Homo sapiens: one gene and its partners. The protein of the gene in region 2 purifies or fractionates together with the protein of the main gene of each other region. This does not show direct contact. Each region holds a gene or a part of one and is shown on either strand. Other genes may lie near its edges. The genes, in order: FRAS1, CCN6 and COL6A2.

The links.
Region 1: the proteins of CCN6 (region 2) and FRAS1 purify together in Homo sapiens (affinity purification with mass spectrometry; one large-scale study listed by BioGRID and IntAct). This does not show direct contact.
Region 3: the proteins of CCN6 (region 2) and COL6A2 purify together in Homo sapiens (affinity purification with mass spectrometry; one large-scale study listed by BioGRID and IntAct). This does not show direct contact.

What each region holds. Positions count from the first base shown.
Region 1 is NC_000004.12:78,473,312-78,476,965, reverse strand, and holds part of FRAS1 (extracellular matrix organizing protein FRAS1 isoform 1 precursor), read right to left. Parts: intron 3,529-3,654; coding exon 3,369-3,528; intron 1,529-3,368; coding exon 1,360-1,528; intron 1-1,359. UniProt on the Homo sapiens protein: Involved in extracellular matrix organization. Required for the regulation of epidermal-basement membrane adhesion responsible for proper organogenesis during embryonic development. Involved in brain organization and function.
Region 2 is NC_000006.12:112,057,058-112,060,711, reverse strand, and holds part of CCN6 (cellular communication network factor 6 isoform 1 precursor), read right to left. Parts: intron 1-3,654. UniProt on the Homo sapiens protein: Plays a role in mitochondrial electron transport and mitochondrial respiration. Through its regulation of the mitochondrial function may play a role in normal postnatal skeletal growth and cartilage homeostasis.
Region 3 is NC_000021.9:46,100,966-46,104,619, reverse strand, and holds part of COL6A2 (collagen alpha-2(VI) chain isoform 2C2 precursor), read right to left. Parts: intron 1-3,654. UniProt on the Homo sapiens protein: Collagen VI acts as a cell-binding protein.

The DNA of each region.
Region 1 (3,654 bases), on a different chromosome or scaffold from region 2:
CAAGTGAAACCACGACTATGGACTTGCCCAAAACTGAAACTGCAGGAAATGAGCCTGGACTATACTTTGTGTAAACGGAGATAACTGAAATATGTACAAAAAACAGACATAAATGTCTGGGGACACACAAATCTGCAAAAATTTTACTCAAACAGAAAATTATTAGTATATATCTAATCAACTAATAACACTTTTATTAAGCTTCATATTTTAAAACACTCCCAGTGAAATGAAACACTCAACAGATCTTTATGTAAGATCTAGAATACACTGACAGTCTTCTGTCTTTCCCTGAAAAACACAAGAATATCCTCCGTCTTATCATTTAGCTGAAAGACATTAGCTTATCTGTTCTTTCCTAATTCCTCACTTACATTTGACATTAGAGACATTAGCTTAGTCCAGCTGAAATGCCTCAATTAAAGAACAGAGCCCACTTCTCTTTACAGAGATCTGTGTTGCCATAATAACAATAAAGTTGCTTTGAAAAAAAAATTAAGTGTCAGACATTGTGCCCTCCATAAAAGATGACAAATACATGGGGCCCTGTATTTGTTGACTATTTAAGTTGACTATTTAAGTCCTCCTTTCTCTTCCACTTTCACTCTCTCCTTTTTCTTTCTCATTGCCACCTTTAATTACCACTGGTATGTAGATGACTTGCAAATTTCTCTCTGGACACCAGACTCCTCTCTGCACTGCCTGCCCATCTATACAGTGGTCAACCTGCTCTTTCTAAGACAATTTATACCTAACATAGCCAAAGCAAAGTCACGAGCACCAAACCTTGCCCAACCGGCTCCTCTTATATGTCCCTTCCTAGCAAGAGGCATCATCATCCATCTTTCAAATGGCCCCACTGTCTAATCAATCCACTGCCAAATCCTATCAATTCTCACTCATCTGTCAAATCCATCCGCTTCTCTCAAACTTCACTTCATAATCGAAGCCCAAGCTCCCATCATCTCAGCCAGCCTACCCCAAGGGATTCCCAACCAGTCTCCTTACACACTCTCTTCTCTCCCTTTAGGTAAAGAAGGTGAGAGGAGAAGAACGGTTGGGATACCAAAGCTGAATATAGAACATGATGCTTGGAGACTTCTTTTTGTCATGAAGCAAAATGTAAAGACTGAGAAGCTAGACAACAACTTCCCCTTTGGCAGTTAAAACTTCAATGGAGGTTAGAGAGACTGTGAAGAACAAAGTACTATGGGAGGGGAACATAGGAAAACTATTTAATACTTGAAGAAGGACACCAGTGAAAAGCAAAGTTGGGAAGAAGTAGGAAAGTGCCACAATTGCTTGCAGCCATGTCACAGCCCTTGCTGGAGCCTCCCCCAACCCCACTACCCCACCTACCTGGCCAGCATACTCTACATAGTCCTGTTGCCCAGGTTGGGAGCTGACCCTGGAGCTGGAGCTGGCGGTGCCTTGCTCGGTGCGACACAGGACGATGGCATATTGGTTCAGGTTCCCAGTCCTCTGCACCGTGACACTGACAGACCCTGCCTTCTCACTGACATTGTAGCTGGAAGCACACAAAAAGGCATCTCTTAAACTATGCCCCATGGTTATGAAAAAACAACTTGTTTAATGCCTGTCTCTTCCATTTGGTTCTTGGCATTAGGTAGTCAGAGAAGAGGAAGTTTGGTTCCTCTAAGAATCCAGGCTGTAAATTGAGGGAATGAGTTCACCTGAACAATCAGAGCACGAAACAAACAGGGAAGCTGTGGATGCAGAATGTCGTCTTCCCTGCTTTGCAAGCAAGCTAAGAGTCATTTTGGGAGATGGACAGCACATAGGAGCAATGAACTTCAGATTTCAGGGCACAGAGAAAGGAAAAACAATCTCTCCCTCCTGGGGTTGAGTAATCACAATAGGTCAGTGGGTTCTTAGGGAAGAAAGCTGCTCTGAAGGCAATCAATGACTTAGGTGGGAACTGACTGGACCAGATCTCCAGGAACTGTGTGATGGAGTCAGAGCAGAAGCAGAGGTAAGAAAATGTGAGGTAAGCCTACATAACAGAGATGTTTAGACAAATAGAACTTTATGACAATGGGGGAAGGACATGATTAATTTAGCTTGCTGCTCAGAATCTCTATTGCATTTGTAAAGTAGAAGGCCAACTATTCATATGCTATTGATTCATAATAAGTATCTAGGTTTGGAAAGGCCACAGAAAGTAGGGCATGAGCTGGGCTTTGTTTTTCACCACTGAGGATGGCCCCTAGACCTGGGTGCATGTCTTGTTGCTGTGAGGACAGCAGGGAAAGTGACTCTGAGAGCTCAGTCCTCATTGCCAGCTTTGGGACCGTCTATACCACTTAGTCCATTAAATGTTAGAGGGTTGTCCAGAAAAAGGGATGAATTTTATTGAATTTATTGAATTTTGAAGGTGATACAATTGAGAGGTAAATAACAGCAAAACATTACATATGTAAAAGTTGATTCTAATTTTCCTCTAATTCTCCAAATGTGTGTAAGAGTAGAATAGCCTGAATTTGGGGCACATGAAATCAAGGTTTTAAGTCTTCCTTTTTTCCCCCAAGTTCCAATTTTTATCTGAATTTTCATGAAGTTGATTTCTTGGATAGTGAGTCTCTGAAATGTAGACTTAAAGAATATTTCCCCCACATAAATTATAATCCTAGTTATAATCTAACCTATAAAATCAGCACCATGCTTGCACACTACCTTTAACAATCAGTATCTCTCTGTTTGCCTTTCTAACTCTCCAACAGATTAGAAAAGCATCTTAAAGGGCTGTCCACATTAAGCCATGCATTTAGCCCTACAGATATACATTCCTACCAAACCCAAAGAAGCCAGGGGAGAAAACAGGGTTGGGAACAAGGAGAATACAGATGGAAGGTGAAGATATTGATAGTGTGGGCCAGTGATTATTTTCCAAACTTGAATGCCTATTTTTATTTTTCCTATCAGTTCTACTAGACTCTCTTCTAAAACTTGAAGAGACAGAAGCAAAAACATTTGTCTGAGCAGCAGTAGAGCACATCGTTAAGATCACTGGGCTTACATCCTGGTCTTACTTCTTATTAGCTATGTGACTGTGGACAAGTTACATAAACAAGTTTCTGTCTCTATTACTTTGCCACTGTGGAGACAGGAATGGAATTCATCTCAGAATTCCAAGTATTATATAAGATGATGCATGTCGAGTCCTAGTGCAGCACCTAATACATACAGTACTCAATAAATATTTGGTGAAATTATTACTTTTATCACTGCCATCATCACCATCACCGCCATCAAGAGGTGACTAGAGCTGCCCCCCAGCATCCTTCATCCTGACTCCCTCTGCTTGCCTGATTGATTTCTCAAGAAGGAAAGCACAGTAAAACTTGTACCTGGTATATTTAAAGCTGATGAGTGACCACTGGATATGGAAGACATTGTCGCTGACCACATTGGGTTTACTGTCTTTCACCAGAAACTGAAAACTATCCATCATCTCACGGATCTTCTCCTTGTGCAACACATAACGAATCAACCCCAAGTTCACATCCTCTGTGAGAAAAAAGACTCACTGTGAATTAACCCAGGGATGTAACGACAGCTTCATAGATTACCACACCAACAAACCTAGTTTATTCTTCTAATGTATTACAGACAAAACTTATTTTTCCAAGCACC
Region 2 (3,654 bases):
ATCTGTAAACCTCAGAGCCCCATGGATAAGGCCTCTAAAGTATCTTCCCTCACTATATCTCTTATCTCCAACTCATACCCCTCTTCTGAACTCAGACTCAAACTGCCTACTTAACATCTCCACTTTGATGTTTAATAGGTATAGCAAATTTAATATGACCAAAAACAAGCTCCCAAGCTTCCCCTTCCACTCTGCTCTTCCACACACTTCCCTATTTAAGCAAATGCCAATATATTTCCAAAATACCTTGAGATCAGATCATGCTTGACTCTTCTCTTTCATATTTTACATCTAATTCCATCAGTAAATCCTGTTTATTACACCTTTAAAAATACCCACCTTGATCATTTATTGATACCTTCTCTGTTACCATCATAATCCAAGTCATCATTGTTCACTTGGATGATTACAATAGCCTCCTGAGTGTTCACCTTCCTTGCTCCTTTGTCCACTTGACATCCAGAATGATTCTTTAAAAATAAGCCAGTTCATATCACTCTTTGCTCATATGGAGTGACTTCCTCATGGCCTCCCATTTCCATGTAAAATTCAAAGTGCCACCATGGCCCTGCATCCTGTGGTCCCCCCTCCCCATATTACTTTGCCCACTGCCACTCACCCCCTTGCTGCCTCCACACCAGCCACACCAGCGTCCTTGTTCTCTGACTCCAAGCACACTCTGCCCCTAGATATCTTCATGGCTCACTCTTTTACTCTCTTTAGGTCTGTGCTCAAATTTCTCAGTGAGGCCCTCTTTGACCACTCTTTGTGAAAGGGCACCCTATCCCAGTCCTTTCACCGTAGAGTTTACCACCTTTCTTATTACCTACACATTTCAGTTGTTTACTTTCTGATACCTGCACCAAGAATGTGAGCATCTTGAAAGCAAGATCTTTGCCTAATGTCTGTCTTGATGACTGCCATCTTTATAAATCACTTTACATGGTTATTTCAATCAAACTTCATAGCAACAGCGTGCAGTGGTGATTATACCATGTGATAGGCAGATAGTGGTCCCCTCAAAGATGTCCATGTCCTAATCCCTGGAGTCTGTGCATATATGTTACCTAAAACATTGAAGGGGATTTTTGCATATGTGATCAACTTAAGAATCTTGAGGTTATCACTCTCGATTATCCAGGTGGGCCCAAGGTAATCACAAGTACATTGGGTCCACTGGGGAAGGAGGCAGGCATGTCAGAGAAGATGTGATGGCAGAAGCAGAGGTAGGAGCGATGCCGTTGCTGAAATGGGTCATGGTCCAAGGAAGCCAGACAGCCTTTAAAAGCTGGAACAGGCAAAGAATGGATTCTCCCCTGCCACCTCCAGAAGGGAGGCAGTCCTGCCAACGCTTGATTTTAGCCCTGTAAGACCCATTTTTGGACATCAGATGTCCAGAACTGTAGATAATCATGTTGTTTTAAGCCATTCAAGTTGGTGATTTCTTACAGCAGCAATAGGAAACTGTATACTCCATTTTGTAAATGAGGACCCTGAGACTCAAATTATTTAAGTTGTCCTATGTGACATATCAAGTAAGTGATAGAAGACTGATTTAAATCAGGCAGGCAGGTTCCAGAGCCTAAGCTCTCAACACTTACCCTCCTTCCTTTCCTAGTCCAAATCATACTGCAACCCAGCTTTGATACAGAACAAATCACCAAATCTCTGCATCTATTTCTCCAGCCTAGACCTCATCCCTTAAGCTTACAACTTATTAGTTGCTATGGTACATATGCACTTTGAGGTTCTACAAGTACCCTCCCCCTGACAAACTGCTCCTCAACTAGCAGTTCCCATTTTAGTGAATGGCGTCACCATCCACTCAGGTCCCCTAGTCAGGAAGCTGAAAACCATCTGGATTTCTTCCTCTCCCTCATCCTTCACACGTGAAAGTGTCTGACCTACAGGAAATGTGCAAGCACTTATGCACAGCATTCAGGGCCCTCCTCGTGTCTTGCAGTTCTTGTATGCATTAGGTTCCAGAAAGTTAAAGTGCCTGTAGTTCCCTGCATATATGATGCTGTTCCTCCTGCCTGGGACATTCTGCCCAGACCCAGCTCCTTCTTCATCTAGTTAAAGGATACTTCAAGGTTCTGTTTCAGTATCATCTTTTCCAGAAAGGTTCCTATAACTTCCCTGCCTTGCACACATTTTTAAACTGAAATTACCCATGTAAGTGCCTATCTCTTCCACTAGCCGTAAAGCCACCCAACCTCAGGTGCTTGTGGTTTGTTTGTGAGTATACCACCAGCACCTAGCACAGTGCCTGGCAATTTGCTTATGTAAATAACTCTTAATGTTTATTTGATGGAACCAGGGACTGTTGAATTGATTACTAGATCTAAGTCCATTTGCAGCTCAAAAATTCTACATTTAGAAGTATCTGTAGGAAATTCCACCCAATATTAAACCCTCAGCCTTTTTTCTTACTACTGGTAAAACACATATGCCTCAGTAAAGAGTAACGTTTCAGCTGTGATTCAAAAGTTACATGCACAACGTGAGAATGGGTTTTGATGGGGAGGATAGGACACTGCTGGGCTTCTGGAGAAGGAGCAGGGGAAAAGGAAACATCAAAATGGAGAAGGGAGTAGAAATAGTGAAGCTAGAATCCTAAAAAAATTTTAAACTTAAAAAAATTTTGCCTCCATCTCAGTTTTGCACAGGTTCAGCTATAGCCACCAGTGATTCAGGATGCCAGGTTCAGTGGCCTCTTTGCTGGTCTCACATCCGTGAACCCTCTTCAGTCCTCCTCTTGCCCCACCTCTCTAAGGCATTTAACTCTCCTCTACCTTGGATTTCATTACATCTGGTCCCCCCAGTCCTCCCCTTACTTTTCAACGCACTTTCTCAATCTCCTCCGCAGGCTCCTGTTACCCTGAATTTGACTTAAATTTAGGCCTATTGGTGTTTCATAGCTTTAATGTATTGCTTGCCTCATTCTACACTGTGTCTTGGCAATCTCACCCACACCCTTGCCTTCAGTTTTCATCCTATGCAAGTTTCAAAACTAAATTTCCAGCCTGGACTTCTCCACTGAGCCCTGGACCCGTGAGATAACTACCTACTGGACATCTCCACCCAAATGTCCTCCAGGAAATACTCAAGTCCAAAAGTCATCATTTTTCACTCTTCAAAGTTTGGAGTCAGGAAGCTGGATTCATCTGGGTTGTCTTCCTCCCTCTCACCTCCTATGACGATTCAGTGACCCTCTCCTATGTATTGTATTGTCCTCGTCTTCCCAGAACTAGATGCTTTTCCCCATTTCATTGCTACTAAGTAAGCACCGTCACTACGAGTTCCTGACTGACCTTCCTCCCTCCAGAATGACTTTTCAAGTGCATCTACTATGTTGCTCCTGGAGGAATCTCTTTAAAGAACATGTCTGGTTGTATTACTCCTCTCCTTAAAGCCCATCAGGGGTTCCCCATAGTCCATACTGTGCAGCCTAAACTTCTGAGCCAGTTATCCAAAGCCCTCTCCTGCCTACCTCTTGAGCTTTAGCTCTCACACACTCTCCTTCCATGACTTGCCATTTGCTGGACTCCCTGGGTTGGTTTTCTCCTCCCTGCTTTTTCATGTGTTCTTTCTAATGAAATGCACACTCCCAAAACTGCCCCCGGATGCCTCTTTAACTTTCCAATTTTGAAG
Region 3 (3,654 bases), on a different chromosome or scaffold from region 2:
AAATAGTCTCTCTGCTCCCTTTGCTCTCTCTTCTTCTGGGGCTCCTACAATGTTTATGTTGGTTTGCTTGATGGTATCCCACAGACCCCTTAGGCTCTGATCACCTTTATTCAATCTTTTTATTTCTGCTCCTCAGACTCAATAATTTCCATTTTTGTATCTTCAAGTTCCCTGATTCTTTATTCTGCCTGCTGAAATCTGCCTTTGCATTTCTCTAGTGAATTTTAAATTTCAGTTATTGTACTTTTCAGCTCCAGAATTTCCCTTTGGTTTCTTTTTAAAATTTCTAGCTTTTTATTGATATTTTCATTTGTTCCTACATTTTCTTTCACTTTCTCCACATTTTCCCTTAGTTATTTGAGTATCTTTAAGATAGTTCTTTCAAAGCCTTTGTCTAGTAGATCTACCACCAAGTCTTTTTCAGTGACAGTTTCTGTTGTTTTTTTTTCCTTTGAAATAGGAAAGTTTCTTTGTATGCCTTGTGAAATCAAAATCTCTTTCTTCCCCAGAGTTTGCTGGTTTTTCTTGTTTTTATAATTTTGATTGTTGCTGTCTCTGTGCTAAGGATCAGCATAAAGTATAAACTTAAGGTCTTCTTAGGTCTTTTCTAAGCCCGTGACTTCCCCTGAGCATGTGCAATGACTTTTTTATTTTCTCCACATATATGGTTGCTTTTGAATGTGCTAGTCTTCAATGTCTACGTCTCAAAAGAGGAAAAAGAGAAAAATGAAGGGAGAAAAGGGTGCCAGCCCTTTAAATCTCCTGGAAGTCACTTCAACCAGACGGAGAAGGGCTTGCAATGACGGGGTTAGTTGCAACAACAAAGTCTGTGTCAATAGATTTTGAAAGATCTACATCATACAAGATATCTTTTCAGACCACAAAGGAGTAAAGTTAAAAATCAGCAACAAGGACATTTAAAAAATCACGAAATTAAACAACACCCTGTTAAATAACCAAGGATCAGAGAAGAAATCACAAGGGAAATTATAAAATACTTAGAGATGAGTGAAAATGAAAACACAAATTTAAAAACTTGTTCGACAGTGAAAGCAGTGCTAAGGGGGAAACTGATGGCTATACATGCTTATATTAAAAAAGACAGGTCTCAAATAGGAGCTTAACCTTACAATGTAAGGAACTAGAAAAAGAACAAGCTAGCAGAAAGAAGGAAAAAATAAAGATCAGAGCAAAGATAAACAAAATGGAGAACAGACAGATAATAGAGAAAATCAATGACAACAAAAGTTGGTTCTTTGAAAAGATAACAGAATTGACCAGCCTTAAGCTAGATTCTAGACTAAGAAAAAAAGAAGAAACTCAAATTACTAAAATTATAAGTGAAAGTGGCAACATTGCTACTAATTCTACAGAAATAAAAAAGATTATAAGAGTGTACTATAAGCAACTATATGTCAACAATTTGAATAACACAGATGGAATGGAAAAATTTCCAGACAGACAAAACCTATCAAGACAAAATCAAATCATGAAGAAATAGAAAATCTGAATAGACATAACTAGTAAGGAGATTGAATCAATACTCAAAAATCTCCTGACAAACAACCTCTGGACCTGATGGCTGCACTGGTGAATTCTACCAAACACATAAAGAACTAACACCAAACCCTCCCAAAATTTTCAAAAAACTTGAAGAGAAGGGAACACTATTTAACTCATTCTTATGAGGCCAGCATTACTCTGATACCAATACCAGACAAAGATATTGCAAGAAAAGAAAACTACAATCCAGTCTTCCTTATGAACATTGATGCAAAAATCCTAAACAAAATACTATTAATAGTAAACTAAATTTGGTATAATTTGATGCAATTAAATGGAATTTAATGAATTGACCAAGTAGGATTTATTTCTGGAGTGCAAGGATAGTTCAACATACAAAAAAAAAAAAATCAATCAATGTAATACACATTAACAGAATGAAGGAGGAAAAAAAACTCACACATGATCATTGCAGTTGATGCAGAGAAACCATATGACAAAATTCAATACCCTTTCATGATAAAAACACTCAACAAATTAGGAATAGAAGGAAACAACCTTAACATAATAAAAGCCATATTATACGAAAAAGCCACAGTGAACATCATACTCAGTGGTGAAAGACTGAAAGCTTTTCCTCTAAGGTCAGAAATAAAGGAAGGATGCCTGCTTTCACTACTTCTATTTAACACTGTACTGGAAGTTCTGGCCAGAGCAATTGGGCAAGAAAAAGAAATTAAAGGCATTCAAATTGGAAAGAAATAAGTAAATTATCTCTGATCACTGATGATATGATCTTGTATGTAGAAAACCCTAAAAATTCCACAAAAACTGTTACAACTAATAAACAAATTCAGCAAAATAGCAGAATACATAGTAAACACATAAAAATCACTTGTATTTCTATTCACTAACAATGAACAATCCAAAGGAAATTAAGAAAACAATTCTATTTACTATAGTATCAAAAATAATAAAATACTTAAAAATTGACTTAGGAGGTGAAAGACCTGTACAATGAGAACTACAAAACATTTCTGAAAGAAATTGAAGAGGACATTTAAAAAAAGACATTCATGTTCATAGATTGGAAGACTTACTATATTAAGATGTCAATACCACCCAAATTGATCTAGAGGTTTAATGTAATCCCTATAAAAATCCCAGTGATTGTTTTTTTTTTCAGAAATAGTGAATAAATCCTAAAATTTAGATGGAATCTCAAGGGACCTCGAATAGCCAAAAAAAAAAAAAAAAAAAAAAAAAAAATCGTGAAAGATAAGAACAAAGCTGGGGGACTCACATGTCCTAATTTCAAAACTTACTACAAAGCTGCAGTCATCAACAGTGTGGCACTGGCATAAAGACAGACATACAGACCAACAGAATAAAACAGAGAGTCCAGAAAGAAACCCTTGCATATATGACTTTCAATCAAGCCGTCAAGACCATTCGATAAAGACAGTCTTTTCAACAAACGGTGCAGAGACAACTAGATATCCACATGCAAAAGAATGAAGTTAGACCCTTACCTAATACCATATACAAAAATTAACTCAAAATGGATCTTTACGTTTTAAGACCTAAAACTTTAAAACCCTTAGAAGAAAACATAAGGTAACACCTTCGTGACATGGGACTGAGCAATGATTTCTTGGGTATGACAATAAGAAAAAATAGATAAATCAGATTACACCAAAATTTAAAAACATTTTTTGCATCTATCTAGTGAAAGGACATCATTAACAGAGTAAAAAGAACCCAGAGAATGAGAGAAAATATCTGTAAACTGTGTATCTAATAAGGGATTAATATCCAGAATATACAGAGAACTCCTAAAATTCAACAACAAAAAACAATCAACTTGATTCAAAAATAGGTCAAGGACTTAAACAGATATTTCTCCCAAGAGATATATAAATGGCCAACAAGCACATGAAAAGATGCTCAACGTCACTAATCATGAGGGAAATGCAAGTCAAAACCACAGTGAGATACCACCTCACACCCATTAGGATGGTTAACATTTAAAAAAAACCAAGCGAACCCGGAAAATGACACCTGTTGGTGCAGATGTGGAGAAACTGGACCCTTGTGCACTGTTGGCAGGAAAGCAAAATGGTGCAGCCACCGTGGGAAACAGTGAGGCAA